Homo sapiens: one gene and its partner. The protein of the gene in region 1 purifies or fractionates together with the protein of each later gene. This does not show direct contact. Each region holds a gene or a part of one and is shown on either strand. Other genes may lie near its edges.

Region 1 (4,013 bases):
CGTGCTTTCCTTACGTGGGATTTCCCCACTAACTATCATGGAGAAGGGAGAACCAACAGGCCTAGACGGTAGACCACCTAGATCCTATTTCCTTCTCCTTCCCAATCCTTGAGTCTTGGTCCCCAAACTTCTGTCTCCAGAATGTTCTTCCTGACCAATCTACCTGGCCTTCCAATCCCTGTCGCATCTCTCTGCCTTGAGATGTATGGCAATGCTATTTTGCTAGTCTGTTCTTCATTCTCTATTACGTGCAGAGTTGAGGACTGGGTTGCTTTCTTCCTTCAAATCTCTACCTAGGCCTTAGGACCAAGTTGTTCAGGGTACGAGAGAATAAGCTGACCCCACAGGGCTGTCAGGTGCCACAAAAGTCTTCTAACAGTCCTTCTCCTCCCTGGAGTGAGCTCACCCTTGTTCACCACACAGGCCTTTTACACAGCACAATTACAACATTGAGCTCGACACAGAGACAGGCACTGCCCTGCACTTAACCTCCTGCTTATTCAAATCCTCACTCTCGTTCCTATCAAATGAGAATGAACATTTGGGCTTTCCCAGAAAGGGGCAGAGGACTGTGTAAAGAGCTGAGTTCACCCAAGCTACGGCATGGACACACCCAACCTGGTCTTCAGCATCCCTTCCAGGGCTGAGATGTCGGAACACATCCGTGGGAGCCAGAAAATGTTAAGAAGAATACCATCACCATTTTAAATATTACTGCTTACCATATCAAATCAAGTTACAGTTATCTTCTCTGTTTTACACAGAAGGAAACTGAAGCACAGGGAGGTCAAGTAACTTGACCAAGGTCACACAGCTAGAAATGTGGCAGAGGCAGAATTTGCATTCAGGCCTATGTATCTCCAAAGCCCACTCTCTTAACTATGACATCACATTGTCTTGCATTTGACTGGTGCTTGGAGCTTTGCCAAAACACTTCATATACACCTTCTCATTTGCTCCCCACCCAGGGAGTGTTTATGTGTTTTGGCTAAGATTATATATCGAAGTTAGTGACAGGGCTGAGTCAGCTGCCTGCCTTCATGATACTCACTGCCTCCCTGCACTGAGAGGCCCTCAGCCCTAGGGTTAGCTGCCCCTCCTGGTCCTGAGGTCTGTTCGAGGCAATGGTTGCATGGACTAAGTTCATGCTCATATTTCCTGTCCCCACTTCTTCCAGCTGAACTTGGGCAAATATGTTTCTGACCTCACAGGGCACCTGACACACATCAGGGCCTCCCCTTCTCTGCCCTGAGTTCTTCCATGCTGCTACAGGTAGGAGTCAGCTGTTCCACCCACTGTAGGACTGTGGGCAGCATTACTGAGGTGAGGTCATCTTGAGCAGCCCAGTCTCCTGCACACTTCCCTCTTTCTTTTGAGGGTCTTGTCCTGTTCTCTGCCCTGGTGCCCCTGGAAGCAACTTTCTCTGATTACCTCTGGGTTCCTAAAGTGCATGGCACCATTAAGGAACTGGAGCTAGGGAAATGCCTGCAATGCTACTGGCTCCTGCTAGGCAATTGGAATCAAAGCATATTTCTTTCTTTCTTTCTTTCTTTTTTTTTTTTTTTTTTTTTTTGAGACAGAGTTTTGCTCTTATTGCCCAGGCTGGAATGCAATGGTGCGATCTCAGCTCACTGCAACCTCTGCTTCCCAGGTTCAAACAATTCTCCTGCCTCAGCCTCCCAAGTAGCTGGAATTACAGGCGCCTGCCACCATGCCCGGCTAACTTTTTGTATTTTTTGTGGAGATGGGGTTTTGCCATGTTGGCCAGGCTGGTCTCGAACTCCTGATCTCAGGTGATGCACCAGCCTCAGCCTCCCAAAGTGCTGGGATTACAGGCATGAGCCACCACATGTGGCCGGAACCAAAGCATATTTCAAACCCCTCACCTGACCTGGTTTTCATCATCACATGAATTTCCCTGTCTCATCCTTCTTAACCTTTCCTTTGATGGGAAGGGAGACAGCTCATCTGTCTGGAGCGGAGAATAGGGCCTGTGTGGTGCACACACATCTCTGGTAGAAGGCGCAAAAGTCCTCGAGGCTCTTTGGTGTGTCCAGAACTATGAACCTCACCCAGTGCCTGTAAATTGTGTGTGTGGGCCTGGGGGCGAGCTCAGAGCACAGAGTTAACATCCTTTCTGAGAGTGCTGCAATGGGTTGTCGGCTGCTAGAAGGGGTCTGCTGTAAGCTTTGTGGGCAAACTGACCACCCTCCACCCCCATACACAGAAGAGCCCCATCCTACCCTCTGCAGACGTCTGGGTCTGCGATGATTGGCCCTGGATGCAAGTAAAAGCTGTTTCTCCTTTTTGTCAGCCTGGGAATCTGAACAACTGAGGAAATAGGGAAGTCGGTGACAGTCACAGTCATGAACACCCAGCAGATTCCATTTCCCCACAGCAGGAGGCAGATCCCTTCCCACCCCCAAAAGCCCCCAGGCTCTGGAGGGAATTCAACCAAGCAGGGCTCAGACCGACCTCCACCAGCGAGGCTTCTCCTTGCTGTCCCCTTCTGCTCAGGCGCAACGTGGCAGGGCAGGAGGAAACCTCTCTGCAAGAGTTGCCGTACCAGAGCACATGGGGTGGCCCGATCTGGGGAGACGGGGCACAGAAGGAATGCAGGGCATGGGTGGGTGAGGGGAAGAGGGTGTGGAGCCCTGGCTCTGGCTTGTCCCCCTCTCACCCCTCCAAGTTCCAGAGGTCTGGGCTCCTCATTCATCTCGTAAGCGCCAAGGTGGAGGGGGGTCCTACCGAGGGAGGAGCTACAGGCCACCGCGACCAGCAGAGAGCGAAGGCAGGAGGGACCAGCCTGGCCCAGCCCCTTCATTTTACTGTCGGGGGTAGTGAGGAGGAAGAGGAAGAGGCGAAGGCTGGCGGAGGAGGAGGTGAGAGCGAGGACTCGGCAGAAGCGAGATCCGCCGAAGGGAAGTCCGAGCAGTCGGGGAGCTCAGGGGGGCCCTCCCGGGGAGAGGGTCGCGGGCTCCTTCTGCCGCTTACCTGTCGCGCCGAGGCAAAGCCGCAGCCGCGCCGCGGGGTGGCTCCCGGGTTTCCCCACCGGACGGCCGGGAGGGTGGGACCGGGGCGGGACCTCCCCCAGCTGCACTAACGCGCCCGCCCCGCCCCTCCCTGGCCAGGTGCAGCGGGTCCCGCCGTGTCCTCAGCCTGCTGCGGGCCCGGGAACTCCCGGCGGACCGGCAGAGGGGCGCCCCGGCTTCTCTGCGTCTCAGCCCGCCCCGGGGGTGCGGTCTTTGCGGCCAGGCTTTCAGCGCGGAAAAAGATTGGAGGGTCCTAGTCACCCCAAAGAGGACAGGCATTAGCAGAGCCGCGGGCGGCGGGTGCATGGAACCGGAATGTGCTGCGCGCCAGCCTGGAGCGCTCGGAGCCCGGAGGCCTGCCCCGGAGGGGGAAACGCGGCGGGGCGGCCATGGGCCCCGGGGTCCTGCCCCAGGTTTGCTTCTCATTTGTGCTCCATCCAACAAGAGCTCGTATTCCGTGTGCCATGAACTGTGTCAAGGGCTCCAAGTGCCAGGTATCAGGTGAATCCCAGCCCCAGCAAACTTTAAACCTACTATGATTATTCCGAATGTACCGGGGAGGCAGCTGCTCACACAGCAGAGGGTGTTTCTCAAAGTGGGATCCCCCACCAGCAGCGCCAGTCAGAATCACCTGAGAACTTATTAGAAATTTTGGCCGGGCGCGGTGGTTCATGCCTGTAATCCCAGTACTTTGGGAGGCCGAGGCGGGCGGATCACAAGGTTAGGAATTCGAGACCAGCCTGGCCAACATGGTGAAACCCCGTCTCTACTAAAAATACAAGAAATTAGCTGGGCGTAGTGGCGGGCGTCTGTAATCCCAGCTACTCGGGAGGCTGAGGCCGGAGAATCGCTTGAACTCGGGAGGGGGAGGTTGCAGTGAGCCGAGATCACGCCACTGCACTCCAGCCTGGCGACAGAGCGAGATTCCGTATCAAAAAAAAAAAAAAAGAAAAAAAGAAAAGAAAAGAAAAGAAATGGGCC
Region 2 (3,500 bases), about 44 Mb from region 1:
CACCCAGCTAATTTTTGTATTTTTTTTTTTATAGGGGTGGGGTTTCTCCATGTTAGCCAGGCTGGTCTCAAACTCCTGGCCTCATGTGATCCGCCTGCCTCAGCCTTCCAAAGTGCTGGGATTACAGGTGTAAGCCACCTCACCCCGTCCCTTTTTAATCCTTTCTGTGTAGTTGTGTTCATAACCATACTCCATTTTACTTGCTTTTTTCCATCAATATTATAAGCAATTTTTCATGTTATTAAAACAATCCTTATAATCACCATTAAAAGATTTTTTCTGATTATAAGAATATACAATTGCTATAGAAAATTTGGAAATCTGGAGAATTATTAATATGAGGTAGAAACAATTCTTTGGCCCAGAAGCAATACTGTTAATATTTTATTCACTGATTCAACAACTATTTGAGGGTCTGCTTTTGGGTAGAGAAAGAATGTTTTGGGGGTGTTTGTTTTAGAGGTGGGGTCTTGCTCTGTTGCCGAGGATGGAGTACAGGAGCTATTCACAGGTGCAATCATAGCACACTACAGCCTTGAACTCCTGGGCTCAAGCATCCCCCCTGCCTCAGCCTCCCATGTAGCTGGGACTCCACAGAGGAATGTTTTTTAAAGACCACAGTGTGAAAAACTGATTGTAGTTTATTGGTCACACCTTCTTTAGAAGAAAGCTTATTATTATAAATAACATATACCTACACATTTCTCATATAATGTATACAACATTTTCTGACTTGCTTCTCCCTCCCCTCACTTAATATGTCACAGACATTTTTCCTGTCTCACTAAATACTGTGTCAGTTCGAGTGTTTTAGTTTCTGTGGGGCTTTTGTATTTAGAAAGGATTGTTGGGCAATTTGGATTTAAAATTAATATACTATTTATTATAGTTGCAAATTTAAAAACCTAATTGTTTTTCATTCTTGAGGTTCAATTTATAAATAGGATAAAAAGATTAGTAAATTGAATTACTTTTTGCATAAAAATAAGGAACAATCATTTTCTCTTGTTCTTTGATGAATGTTCGGTAAACTCTAATGGAAAGGATTACATTGTCCTAAACAGTAATACCCATTTGCAAATTTAGTTAATACATCTCTTTAAGCAGTTTAGTCACATTTATAAATTGAACATATTTGATATTTGAGTTTTTTCAATTCTTCAAATCCCCAGTGCATAGGCAGATTAACCTATCAAGCAAAATGTTCCTAAGCACTTAAATGACTCTTGTTTACTCAAGCCCAAAACTTCAGTGTCATCCCCCAGTCTAATTCTCTAATGTCCAGTCTGTTAGCAAGTTCATCCTGCTTTCGTTTCTCCATATATCCCACATCTCATCACTGCCTCTATGACTGTTACCCTAGTCCAAGGCACAATTATCTCTTGCCTGGACATCTACAGTCACCTCCCAACTGGTTTGATAACATTCTTGCAGTGCACTAGCGTTCCCAACATGCTAAGTGATGAGAGTGCATATTTTTAAATGTAAATCAGACACATCAAGTCTCTGCTCAGAATGACCCAGTGGCTTCCCATCACAGTGAGAGTAAAAACCCCAACTCCTTCCATGCTCTGCGAGGCGTTATGTGATCACAGTCTGCATGCACTGTCCTAGTCACAGCCCTGTTGACTCTGACTTGGCCACATTGGCCTTCTTGCTTTTCCTTGAACAGTGAACATACTCCCAACTCAGTCTCTGCACTAGCTGTTTCCCCAGATTTGGCATGGCTCACACACCTTCACTTTATTCAAGTGCCCATCTGGTGGCTCTTCAGGTGGTCTAGTCTATAAGAGCCCTGTTCCCTCTCATACTCCATACTCTTCCCCTGCTCTGGTTTTTTCCTTGATGGCACTTAACTACCTCTGCTTAACATTTTTTTTATATTATTTAATTTATTGTATGTTTCCCCAAATACCATGTTGGAACAGTGCCTACCACATAGTATTTCTGCAATAGATTTTTGTTGAATGAATGGATGTACATATACATTTTACTTGAAACAAACATTATTTTTTGGGTATGATAATCAGTTTTCTTCACTTTAGCTGATCCAAAAATGGCATCTTCTGCTACTCCTTTATAGCTTTCTAATGAATTTGAAACTAGATTTACCTCTGAATTACATTGCAATTTCAACCTGTCCTTTTTAGTACTTTGACCCACTGAATCATTTGTTACAGTTTTGTGGGGTTTTTGGGGCAGGGGCGGAGGGGTGTTTTTTTTTTTTGACACAAGGTCTTGCTCTGTCACCTAGGCCAAGTGTAGTGCCGTGATCATAACTCACTGCAACCTCAAAATCCTGGGCTCAAGCTATCCTTCTGCCTCAGCTTCCTGAGTAGCTGGGAGTATAGGTGCATGCCACCACACCCAGCTAATGTTTTTGTTTTTGAGAGAGAAGGTGTCAAACTCCTGGCCTCAAGTGATCCTCCAACCTTGGCCTCCCAAAGCACTGGGATTATATGTGACAGCCACTGTGCCTAGCCTGTTACAGTCTTCTAAAATATTATTTCTCTAAATAAATTGCTAGCTGTCAATGGCAGATAATATTTTCTTCAAAGTAAGTCCTTCCTAATGTTTATTTTCTGCTCCAGAAAAATCAGAATATTAGGAGACTGTGTTCTAAGAAACTACAAACTGCATTAATTGGGTAGTTTCTCTTATGTTACAGAATGTTACTTTTCTTTATACCCTTTCTCTGTTAAAATGTGTTCATTATAAGCAGAAGACAAGATTGTTTTGATTTTTAAAACTCAGCTTTTATTTAACACATTTCACTGAGTATTCATTGCTTCATTTAATATTGATTCTAACATTTTACAAAGATGCCTTGTTGGAAAATTCCATATGTGGAATGTGGAAATAAACTATGTATTACTCTTGGTGAATGAGGAACTGCTCAGCATGTTCATTATAGAAAATTCAAAAAATAACAAAAGAAATAAGAATAGCCTGTTATCCCACCACTTGTAGAAACCACTGCTATTAATATTTTGATACACATTTGACCTTCAGTATCTGTGGGTTCTGCATCCATGGATTAAACCAACATTAGATGGAAATTATATCAGAAAAAAGTTCACAAAGTTCCAAAAAGCAAAACTTGGATTTGCTGTGTGCCGAGTATTATGTTGAATCCACATGAATGAAGTCATATGCAGACATCATATTAGGCATTATAAGTAACCTGGAGATGATTTAAAGTATACAGGAGGTTGTGCATAAATTATATGCAAATGCTACATTTGCATATCCACAAATGATCATTTGTGGATTTTGGCATCCACAGGGTGTCCTGGAATCAATCCCCCATAGACACTAGGGACAACTGTTTATTCTTATCTCCTCGATTTCTATGCATATATATTCTTTTGTTTTTGTTATTAATGTAATTGAGCTTTTTGAAGAAGTAGCCTGGGTTTGCAAGTTATTTTAACTTTTGGCAGCCTGGTTTTCTCACTTACTATATTTGGATAATAATATTTATCACGAGTTGTTATAAG

What was found. The genes of interacting proteins can lie anywhere in the genome.
Region 2: the proteins of GALNT6 (region 1) and NDUFA12 purify together in Homo sapiens (affinity purification with mass spectrometry; 2 studies listed by BioGRID and IntAct, with this or other methods). This does not show direct contact.

What each region holds. Positions count from the first base shown.
Region 1 is NC_000012.12:51,388,607-51,392,619, forward strand, and holds the start of GALNT6 (polypeptide N-acetylgalactosaminyltransferase 6), read right to left. Parts: upstream 2,801-4,013; 5' UTR 2,681-2,800; intron 2,590-2,680; exon of another isoform or gene 2,476-2,589; intron 2,332-2,475; 5' UTR 2,244-2,331; intron 1-2,243. UniProt on the Homo sapiens protein: Catalyzes the initial reaction in O-linked oligosaccharide biosynthesis, the transfer of an N-acetyl-D-galactosamine residue to a serine or threonine residue on the protein receptor. May participate in synthesis of oncofetal fibronectin.
Region 2 is NC_000012.12:94,976,198-94,979,697, reverse strand, and holds part of NDUFA12 (NADH dehydrogenase [ubiquinone] 1 alpha subcomplex subunit 12), read left to right. Parts: intron 1-3,500. UniProt on the Homo sapiens protein: Accessory subunit of the mitochondrial membrane respiratory chain NADH dehydrogenase (Complex I), that is believed not to be involved in catalysis. Complex I functions in the transfer of electrons from NADH to the respiratory chain.